Homo sapiens: one gene and its partners. The protein of the gene in region 1 purifies or fractionates together with the protein of each later gene. This does not show direct contact. Each region holds a gene or a part of one and is shown in the gene's direction. Other genes may lie near its edges. The genes, in order: TNIP3, LRRC47 and CNKSR2.

Region 1 (3,730 bases):
ACAACAAAAAAATCTCCATGATGTACCAACCTAAGCTTTTTTTTTTTTTTTTTTTTTCGGAGACAGTCTTACTCTGTCACCCAGGCTGGAGTAGTGCACTGGTGTGATCATAGCTCACTGTACCCTTAAACTCCTGGGCTCAAGAAATCATCCCACCTCAGCCTCATGAATAGGGCTACAGGCATGAACCACCATGCCCAGCTAATTTTTATTTTTATTTTTTGTTCAGATGGTGTCTTGCTCCACCTCCAGTCTGTTGCCAGGCTGGTCTCGAACTCCTGGCCTCAAGTGATCCTCCTGCCTCTGGCTCCCAAAGTGCTGAAATTTCAGGTGTGAGCCACTACACCCGGCCTGTTTTTAAAGCATTATTTCAATCTTCACAACAAAGCTATGAAATAGGTTTTGTTTTGCACTATTTAACACATGAGGAAACTGAGGCTTAGAGAATTTAAGTAACACGCCTAAATCACACAGTTAATAAAATTTAGCAAGGGGATTAGATTATTTGATATATAGGATTCTAAAACATATGGTTTGAATTATATAGTACAGTGCCCCTCTTACTGTACCTCTCTCACTTTATTGAAATTTTCTGAAAGTATAGATACAAAAATGAGAAGGGGACTCTAACATAGATAATAATATGACTAGCATTTAACCCTCAATAATCTCATCTTTGTGTGAACTCACAGCATGCTACTCATTTGACATTTAGAATATCACAAGTAAAAGGCACGGTACTATGTAAGATTAAGTGTGTAATAAATATGTTATGAACTAACCTGTGCATGGACAGCCCTGGTGGAACCTGACCAGGATATGTTGTCATTTGAAACCTATCCTTTTCCATACTAACACAGCTCTGCAACTAACTATGGCTGGCCAGCAGCAGAGAAGAGGGCTGATCATGGTTAGGGCACCACCAAAAAATTCCTCACTCAAAAGTCTACCTGTTTGGGATTCCTATGCCTCCTTTACTAGCTTCCACAGTTGATGTATTTCATAGCTTAAGCCATGTCATAAGAATTGGCAGAACTCTGACATCACTCTTGTCATAAATGATGGATGTGTCATTATTTAATTTCAGTAGTGGTTCTTGCTGGTTTGGGGTTCATTTAATTAAAACGGTCCTTTTAATCTGTTGGTGTAACTGAATTGCTCAGAATTCTCATAAAATAATTTTGTGGTATTGACTATTAAGAAATCACTAGTTTAAGGCCAGGAGTGGTGGCTCATGCCTATAATCCCAGCGCTTTGTGAGGCCAACGTGGGCAGATTGCTTGAGCCTAGGAGTTCAAGCCCAGCCTGGGCAACATGGTGAAACCCTGTCTCTACAAAAAAATACAAAAATTAACCAAGTCTAGTGGCATGTGCCTGTAGTCCCAGCTACTTGGGAGACTAAGGTAGGAGGATCACATGAGCCCAGGAGGCCAAGGTTGCGGTGAGGTGAGATCACGCCACTGCGCTCAAGCCTGGGTGACAGAAAATGACTCTATCTCAAAAATAAAAAAAAATAAAAAAAAAGAAGAAGAAGTAACTTCATGCATTTGAAAAGGTATGGCAGATAATGAGTGATTAAATTTCAATGATACCACTAAATCCTCCTCTAACATTTCTGGGGCCTGGAGCAAGAATAAGTGGAGAGCTACATCCTATCTGTGTAAATCTCATGAATCAAGCATAGAAACTGTTAAAGTATAATCTATCCTCCTACCTTGATAAACATACATGGAAAACCAAAGTACAATTTACAATGCTCAGTTTCAAAACCAGTCTGTGACAGGACATGGTGGCACAGGGAGACCTAAGCCCTGGCCTCCTGCCTGGGACCCTCGACCTTCTCTCCCCACCTTCCCATCATAAGGACTCTTGAGTGCAGACTTGAAGACAGCCCAGCTGGGAGATCCCACCCTTGTCCATACACCCCTCACCACTCTACACACAACACTCTTTCGACAGCCTTCAGGCTGGGAAGAGGACCACATGAATCTTGGAAGCAGGCCCAGAATCACCTGGGCAGGGACTTCGGGGATGTGCATTTGGGTGCCAGGAGGAGCTTGTTCTGGAGGAAACGTCGCTCACACTGTGAGGAAGGGTGTGGCTGGAGGAGGGCTAGAGCAGAGTCCTCTATAAGATGGGGACATCAGTGAAGGGCTTCCTGACTAGGGACTGAGGGTGGTAGGTGCTGAGTACCATGGTGCACAGACTTCCAGTCAACTAATTTCCAGCTTTGCTCTCAGTTACTGTCTGTGGTTATTTCAGAATGCTTTGGAGACACATTGAAAATCAACCCTTCTTTCAAAAACTAAAGATTTTAAATGAAGGGTTTCGAATGTTTTCAAGTCATTTGAGACTTGGCTTTCTCTCTGTATAGCATTAAATAATGATGTTTTTAATACATTGAAGTCCACAGATATTAATGAGTTACAGCTTTTGTTTAGAAACGTGATTTTACAAAGAACATTTTCATCTTGTTTCATCTGTTATCAGAACGAGATGCAAAATGACTTCCATGTTTATAGAACAATTATGTCATAACAGAGTTAGTTTAACCTTGAAAAACATGTTGTTTGTTTCTTCCTTTCTGAAATGTCAAAAAGCTATGGTTTCTGATTGCATTGCATGCCAGTCACTTCTGTACATTCCAAATTTTTCATAGGGTACAGAGTTATGCTTTGTCTAATGAGCCAGAGATGGATTATTAATGTATCTAGAAAGGCATAAAATGTAGGGATGTGAAACTGTGTTGTGAAATTACTTCTTTACAATATAGAAGATCAAAGCCTAAATATTATGATTAGCTTTTACTAATGTCTAATACTAACCAATTAAATACTGACTGGATTTGTCTCCTAGGATTGCCATAACAAAATACCACAAGCTGGGTGGCTTAAAATAGAAAAACTTTTTTTTTCATAGCTCTGGAGGTTAGATATCCAAAAATCAAGATGTTGGCAGGGCCAAGCTCCTTCCAAATCCTCTGGGGAGGAGACTTCCTTGCCTCTTTCAGCATCTAGTAGCTCCAGGTATTCCTTAGCTAGTGGCAGCATCACTGCAATCTCTGCCTCGGTCTTCACATGACCATCTTCCATCTGTGTCCAAATTTTCCTGTTCTTACACACACACCAGTTACAGTGGATTAAGGCCCTCCTCCCACCTTCACTGTACATTTAGGGAAATTCTGCCTTCCCTTCAAGAACCTAAAGACCTATCTTTGTTTTTGTTCAGATTTCCATTCTGCCGTGGATTATCTCATTGGCCACAGCCTCTCTCCATCTAAAATATCAGGCTATTGATCTTTAATTCTATGCCTGTTTCACAAGAGCACTGTACAAATTGAAAAGGAGTTAATTTTAAAATATTTAAGATACCTAGGGAGAGGTATCATTAGTGGATTTATTTAATGTTAACTTCAGATTGGTTAGATCAATTAATTTATGCTTCTGAGTTCAAATTTATGTTCTCAACATATTAGATACCTTTTTAACATAGTGACCACAGTCCTCAGCAACATAATTTTTCAGCCTGGAAAAGTAACTTATTATCTTCCTATTTGCTTTTTCTGTTACCAAAATGTTAGTTTAGCACATCTTTGGTATACCAAATGAGGACAACAAGTACAAAACATTCAGCATATTTTTAAGTTATCAGGGATAAGGATAACTCTTTGTTTCTTGGCATTTCTATGATTATTTTTTCCTGTTGCCATGAGTAAACTTATTTGACTTTG
Region 2 (3,730 bases), on another chromosome or scaffold:
ACGCCTGCACCCTGGCCTGGTTGGTCCTGGTCACTGGTCGTATCCCTTGCTCCTCCACATATGGTGTTAACGGTTTATCCTGATTTTTTTTTTTTAAGGAGTCTCGCTTTGTCTCCCAGGCTGGAGTACGGTGGCGCAGTCTAATCTCACTGTAGCGTCCGCCTCCTGGGTTCAAGTGATTCTCCTGCCTCAGCCTGCTGAGTAGCTGGCATTACAGGTGCTCACCATCATGTCTGGCTAATTTTTTTGTATTTTTAAAAGAGATGAGGTTTCACCATGTTGGCCAGGTTGGTCTTGAACTCCTGACCTCAAGCAGTCCACCCGCCTTGGCCTCCCAAAGTGTGGGGATTACGGGTGTCAGCCACCACACCTGGCCTATCCTAATTTCTGGATAGCTTTATTGCAGTTGAAAATCAGGGTTCCAGCTGGTGCGGTGGCTCACGCCTGTAATCCCAGCACTTCAGGAGGCCGAGGTGGGTGCATCACCTGAGGTCAGGAGTTTGAGACCAGCCTGGACAACATGACGAAACCCCATCTCTACCGAAAACACAAAAATTAGCCAGGCGTGGTGGTGAGCACCTTTAATCCCAGCTACTGGGGAGGCCGAGGCAGGAGAATCACTTGAACCTGGGAGGTGGAGGTTGCAGTGAGCCAAGATTGCACCACCGCATTCCAGCCTGGGTGACACAGCAAGACTCCATCTCAAAAAAAAAAAAAAAGGAAAATCAGGGTTCCTTGATTTTTTGATATTTTGGTGGGTTTTCTGACTTCTGCAGTAAATCACACATTTTGTTTTATGTAAGACAGTATTAAAGTCATCAACTCTTGCCAGCACATTCTTCTGTGAATTGTTTAGGTTTTGGCAAGACTAACTTCCCAGTTGCTTTTCTGTGACACCTGACCAACTTTTAAAATATAAAGCACCTCTGTGCCCAGGGGAAAGTCTCGTGCGCCCCGCAGTGGCAGCGACAGAGCATGGCGGGCCGAGAGTGACTGTCGTGAGAGTCCTGCCTGCAGCTTGGGGAGGAAGGGAACAGGCATCACAGCCAGGGCTTTACAACTTAAAGCTCAGCCTTTATTTACATTTTAGTTCAAGATGGGTTCTTTGAAATCTCAAATATTATGTCAGAATTAGAGAAGGAAGAAAGTCTGCTGATTGATAGGTTAAGATAGTTTTCCTGATGGTGATTCCACAAAGTGAGTGCCTGGCTGGCCGGGTGGAGAGGAGTTGGAGGGGAGCCCTGTCTCGGAAAGGGGCGTGGCGTGGTTGTGAAGACCTTGGACCGGGAGGGTTTCCTGGCACACAGCCCAGCCAAGGGTGAAGTGTGGACACCTCGCTGGGCTTCAGGGCACAAGAGACCTTGCTCATCACTGCTTCTGTGTTACAGACCAAGCTCCACGAAGATCTCTGTGAGAAGAGGACGGCTGCCACCCTTGCCACCCACGAGCTCCGTGCCGTCAAAGGGCCCCTGCTGTACTGCGCCCGGCCCCCACAGGACCTCAAGGTGCTGCAGCCTCCTTTGCAGGGTCTGCTGAAGAGTCTCCTTGGTGTCGAAAGACGCCATGCTGCTACTGCAGCCCGAACTTTTTTTTTTTTTGGAGATGGAGTTCCATTGTTGCCCAGGCTGGAGTGCAGTGGCACAATCTCGGCTCACTGCAGCCTCTGCCTCCTGGGTTGAAGCGATTCTCCTGCTTCAGCCTCCCGAATAGCTGAGTTTACAGGCATGTGCCACCACGCCCAGCTAATTTTGTATTTTTAGTAGAGACGAGGTTTCTCCATGTTGGTCAGGCTGGTCTCAAACTCCAGGCCTCAGGTGATCCGCCCAACTTGGCCTCCCAAAGTGCTGGGATTACAGGCGTAAGCCACCGCACCCGGCCTGAACATTTTCTTTAGAGTAGGATCCGATGCTGTTCTTGCAAAGACATGAAATAATGAAACAGACCGCGTTTGCGGTTACTCGAAGCGGTGCACAGCTGTGAGAGGACTCGGCGGATGAGCAGTCGTTGGGAAAATGGTTTCCTTCACTCGCTCACTACCTTTTAATCAGAAATTTTGGTCTCTGTCCCGATAGTAAAACCGTTTGCGTGGGGTTGGCAGTAGGGTGAGTTGCTGTGTCGTGCTGTCCTGGGCTGTTGAATCTGTGGAGTGCACGAGGTCCCGGCTGCTCAGCCTTTCTCTCCTCTTTTGGCCTTCTGAGGATGGCAGACCTCTGGAAACAGTTGTGCATGAGCTGGCTTTAAGGTTAAGCCCTGCCTCAGTAGGATCGGTGTGTTTGGGCGTCAGGTCTCCCCGGGACGCTGCAGTGGCAGCCCACATGCAGCTTCTTGCTGCGTGGTCCCGTGGGATGCTCCCTGCCTGCTGTAGAGATGAATGAGGGCGGGAGTCGGGAGGGCTCATTGAGGCTTAAGGCCGTAATCGACACGATGGGCGAGTTCTGTGGCTGTGACCCTAGTGGAGTTTGTGGGTTTCTGCCCGATAGATTGTCCCCTTGGGGCGGAAAGAAGCCAAGGCCAAGGAGCTGGTGCGGCAGCTGCAGCTGGAGGCCGAGGAGCAGAGGAAGCAGAAGAAGCGGCAGAGTGTGTCGGGCCTGCACAGGTGGGCAGCGTGCCTGGTGGGGTGGGGCCGGGCCCGGGGGAGTGCCGCATGCTGGCCTCAGCTGAGTTAGTCTGTGCTCCTCAGGAACCGCCTAATGCTACCAGAACCCAGAAGCTTCTTAACAGGGTACAAAGAAAGCATTCTCTTTCCAAAGGAGACGTTGTGGAACCAGTCTGTCATCTAGATGGCCCTGACGTGAGGGAAGTGGAAGGTGTTAGGAGCGGAGGTATTGGCCATTCCACAGGGGGCGGGTGGCCCTCAGGATGGGACAGGACAGGATATAAACTAGCCATTAGGAAACAGACATAAATGCCAGCCCAACCCACAGCATTTTATCCATACCGTGCGCTGTTGGGTATCATCCAAGTCAGGGTCCTTGGTGCTGCTCTAAGCAAGATGATCATCCGTAACTAGCCCAGTGATTTCTGTAAACACAGGCTTCAGAATACTTTGTTCTTTGAAGCTTGTTATGCTTGGGCCCTTGATATTACACTTAATTTGTGTAAAGAACTTTTTGAGTCGTCCATTTTACCCTTTAGGTATGTTTTCAGGTGTGTGCTTTTTTTTTTTTTTTTGAGATGGGGTCTCACTCTTGTCGCCCAGGCTGGAGTGCAATGGCACGATCTTGGCTCACTGCAACCTCCACCTCCTAGGTTCAAGCGATTCTGCCGCCTCAGCCTCCCGAGTAGCTGGGATTACAGGCGCCTGCCACCATGCCTGGCTAATATTTGTGTTTTTAGTAGAGACGGGGTTTCGCCATGTTAGCCAGGCTGGTCCTGAACTCCTGACTTCAAGCAGTCTGCCTGCCTCAGCCTCCCAAACTGCTAGGATTACAGGCGTGAGCCACCACGCCCAGCTGTGCCTTTTTTCTTTTTTTTTTTTTTTAAGATGTGGTCGCGCCATGTTGCCCAGGCTGGAGTGAGGTGGCTAATCATAGGCGCAGTCCCACTACTGATCAGCACCGGAGCTTTTTGTCCTGCTCTGTTTCTGACCTGGGCTGGTTCACTCCTCTTTAGGCAGCCTGGTGGTCCTCCACTCCCAGGAGCTCACCATAGTGATGACAGACTTAGCGTAGACACTCCATTGGCACAGCACACCCCAGCCAACTCCTGGGCCCATGCAGCCCTCCTGTCT
Region 3 (3,500 bases), on another chromosome or scaffold:
GCTTGCTTCTAACCCACCCTTCACATTTATTTGGTTTGACCATGTTTTCATTCTGGTCTTTCATACTTTTATTTTGTAGGTCTTGATGACTGTTTGCAGCAGTATATTAAGAACTTTGAGAGGGAGAAGATCAGTGGGGACCAGCTGCTGCGCATTACACATCAGGAGCTAGAAGATCTGGGGGTCAGCCGCATTGGCCATCAGGAACTGATCTTGGAAGCAGTTGACCTTCTGTGTGCATTGGTAAGGACATAAAACTGGTGAAGAGGGAAACTTCTCTTTTTCTTCTTTTGTTGCTTTTCCCTTTTTTCTTCTCCTCTTTTGATAATCGAAATGCAAATAGAAGAAAAAAACTCTGATTCTCAACCAGCTGGACCTGATATTTTCTTCCTTCCTTAAATTTATTATATTAGTGCCAAATAACAGTTCCCTGTTTGTAACATCTTTTATAACAGTAAGACTTGGGTATATCAGAACCTTAAGTCCAGAGTGTATGTCTCATAAGCAGGGCTCTTCATAGATGAACCACTCATGTGCTAGGCTCTCACACTGCCAGTTGAGAAAGGAAAGAATATTGATTGACAGTGTTACATACATACAGTCTAGACGTTTGAAGTTTGACCCATGAACAAGGCTCTGCCGACCTAAACCTACTTAAAAGGATGGCATCAGAAATAGATGTCTAGACCACTTCTAAGTTTGAACCATGTAGCTGTGGTGAATCCTTTCTGATGCTGAGCTTTAATCCCTGTACAGTTCTGGGTTTAAGCACCAGGTTTAAGTCATGTCATTTGGATAGTTCATTATGTGATTGAGCTCTTCTGGAAGTTAATGCGGAAAATAAATTTAAACACCATTTTTTTTTCTGTTTATTCAGCAATTCCTTAGTCGCAGTCCCCAAAGAGGTCAAATGTTAAACTTCCTTCTTACCCCTTCCTAATGTAGTGGATATACATCAACAAGTCAGAAGTACAGATGTATTTCAGTTTATGCAACAGATGCTTTCTGGGGAATATAAAGCAAATTTCTGGGTAGTGAATTCTAATTTTCTTCTACATACCATTATGAAATCAGGAGGTGAGATTCCTTATCAACAAGCTGAGTTGACTAGTCCAGGAAGTTGTGCTATTGGGACTATATCTTTACCTCCTTCCCCTCTATCCCCAACTACTCTTTGAATTTCCGTTTACCCTGCTAAGTCTTGTCTCTCTGATCTTTACTGGCCTTTCTACATTTTCCTTATGTCTACTGTATTCATTTCTTTTTCAACAATTACATATTCATGCTCAAACAGTGCTATCACGGGGAATGCAAAGATGAAAAAGACAGTCTGTACTCCTGAAACATATACAGTCCATTAAGAAAGACAATAGCCATCAGAAGACAACATAGATTTAAAGAAAATTCCAGGGGAGTGTAGAAGGAAATGAACACTTCTGAGGGATTCAGGAAGTGTAGGTAAGATATGCATTTGGTCTTGCAGGATGATGAGATGTTTGCCAGACAAAAAGTTGGAGAAAAGTTATCTAGGCAGAAGAAATATCATGTGTAAAGACAGAATTGTGAAAGAATATGGAATATTCAGAGAAAATTGAGAATTTTCATTTAGCTTGTGCAGAATGGGAAGTGATGGGAAAAAAGGGAACTTAACACCTTGTATTACAATTCTTTGCTTAGGTTCTTTTATCCTTTAATTCATGTTGGGCTCCTCAAAGGAAGACATCTTTGTTTAGTTCATATTTTTTATTCAGCTTTCTGCCCAGTGCTTAGCTCATAAAAGATGCTAAATTAATGTTATCTTACTGAATTAAACTCTCTGTCTTTCTTCAGAGAAGCATAATTTTTCTCTTACCTGCATAGCCTTTGACTTTGAAGTTTCTGTTCCTCATATAAAGGAAGACATAGAAAAATTAGCAGATTCCTTTTGTTTCTTTAAGCTATACTATATTTTCGTCTACCTTGTCTTGAAGTTATTCCTTATGTGAATAAATGTTTATGGCAGCTGATGAGAATCAAAGGTTTATTTAGTCACTTGTTTATTCATGCAACATATATTTATTAAGCATCAGATATATTGTTTGCATCATGTTATTCTAGAAAGAAGTAAGCTGTTCATGATTTGGAGGTGTAATAATATTTCAAGCTATTAAGCTATAATTTAGTATGCTTTAATAGAGAGCAAAGATATTAACTGAAAGAGTAAAAATGTAAATAAAAATATATATATAGCTTAACGTATGGTCCTTAATTTGTGTTCTGACAATACACTTTTTATTAGGAACTGTAAATAAATCATTTATGACAGGATAAGAACAGTTTTCATTTCATTTTTCATGTACTTATAATTTCAGGCATTTTGCATGAAAGATTTGATGTTTGCAATTGCTGGGATTTGTTTCTTTGCAACATAATTGCTTGGTTCATTCATCTTAAAATAATTTATTTTCCAAAAAAATTCATTAAAGCAAGCCTTTTAGGACTCACTCATATTTATAAAGCAATGTATTATAAAGCTAAAAAGGTGCTACACGATGCATTCAAATTAAGAACTCTGAATAAAATGGCATTGACATTGTAAAATCTGTTGTTGCCAATATTAAGTATTTCTAGTTAAGTGGTTAGTGAAAATTTGCCACTAGTGAGGATATAGCTGACCTTATTTTTCTAAAATGTTAAATACATTTCTTTATTTCTTTCAAATGCTTTTGCATGCATATGATTGAAAGAGAAGGCTGATATGAACTTAGCATAAATTCATTAAGACTTAAATGGCTGTGTTGAATCAGTTCTAAGTCATTACTGGTTCTGGCACATGGTAATGGCCAAGTATATGAACAAATAAGTAACATATATGACAAACACAGCAGCTAAGTACATTTCATGTATAAGTTTTTGTTTTCTTGAGGTAGTCCTTTTTATACTAATAGTAATACCAAGTTTTGCTATGCATATCCAATAAAAAGCAAATCTGTGGTGAATAAACCTGCATTTTTAAAAAGTTGAGGCAGTGCCCTCCGTACCCCTGGCCTAACACAAAAGGTGCTTGATATACTTGTCAGTTCTTTAAATGGTAGGTAAGGGTGTGTGATTTACTGGTGACTTACCATGTCACAACAAACCATCCACTTACATGAAAGAAATAGCCAGAAGGTATCTGTATTGGTAGTAATTGAGAATTGTAATTATAAAAATTAACCTGAGGCTGGGCATGGTGGCATGCCTGTAATTCCAGCACTTTGGGAGCCTGAGGAGGGCAGATCACTTGAGCCTAGGAGTTCAAGACCAGCCTGGGCAATGTAGCAAGACCACATCTCTACAAAAAATTTAAAAATTAGCCAGGTGTGCTGGCATACACCTGTAGTACCAGGTACTTAGAAGGCTGAGGTGGAAGGATCGCTTGAACCCAGGAAGTCCAGGCTGCAGTGAGCTGTGATAATGCCACTGCACTCCATCCTGGGTGACAGAACGAGACCCTGTATCAAAAAAATAAAATAAAATAA

What was found.
Region 2: the proteins of TNIP3 (region 1) and LRRC47 purify together in Homo sapiens (co-immunoprecipitation; one large-scale study listed by IntAct). This does not show direct contact.
Region 3: the proteins of TNIP3 (region 1) and CNKSR2 purify together in Homo sapiens (co-immunoprecipitation; one large-scale study listed by IntAct). This does not show direct contact.

What each region holds. Positions count from the first base shown.
Region 1 is NC_000004.12:121,133,185-121,136,914, reverse strand, and holds part of TNIP3 (TNFAIP3-interacting protein 3), read left to right. Parts: intron 1-229; coding exon of another isoform or gene 230-336; exon of another isoform or gene 337-1,137; intron 1,138-3,730. UniProt on the Homo sapiens protein: Binds to zinc finger protein TNFAIP3 and inhibits NF-kappa-B activation induced by tumor necrosis factor, Toll-like receptor 4 (TLR4), interleukin-1 and 12-O-tetradecanoylphorbol-13-acetate.
Region 2 is NC_000001.11:3,782,862-3,786,591, reverse strand, and holds part of LRRC47 (leucine-rich repeat-containing protein 47), read left to right. Parts: intron 1-1,388; coding exon 1,389-1,505; intron 1,506-2,480; coding exon 2,481-2,596; intron 2,597-3,730.
Region 3 is NC_000023.11:21,426,418-21,429,917, forward strand, and holds part of CNKSR2 (connector enhancer of kinase suppressor of ras 2), read left to right. Parts: intron 1-79; coding exon 80-243; intron 244-3,500.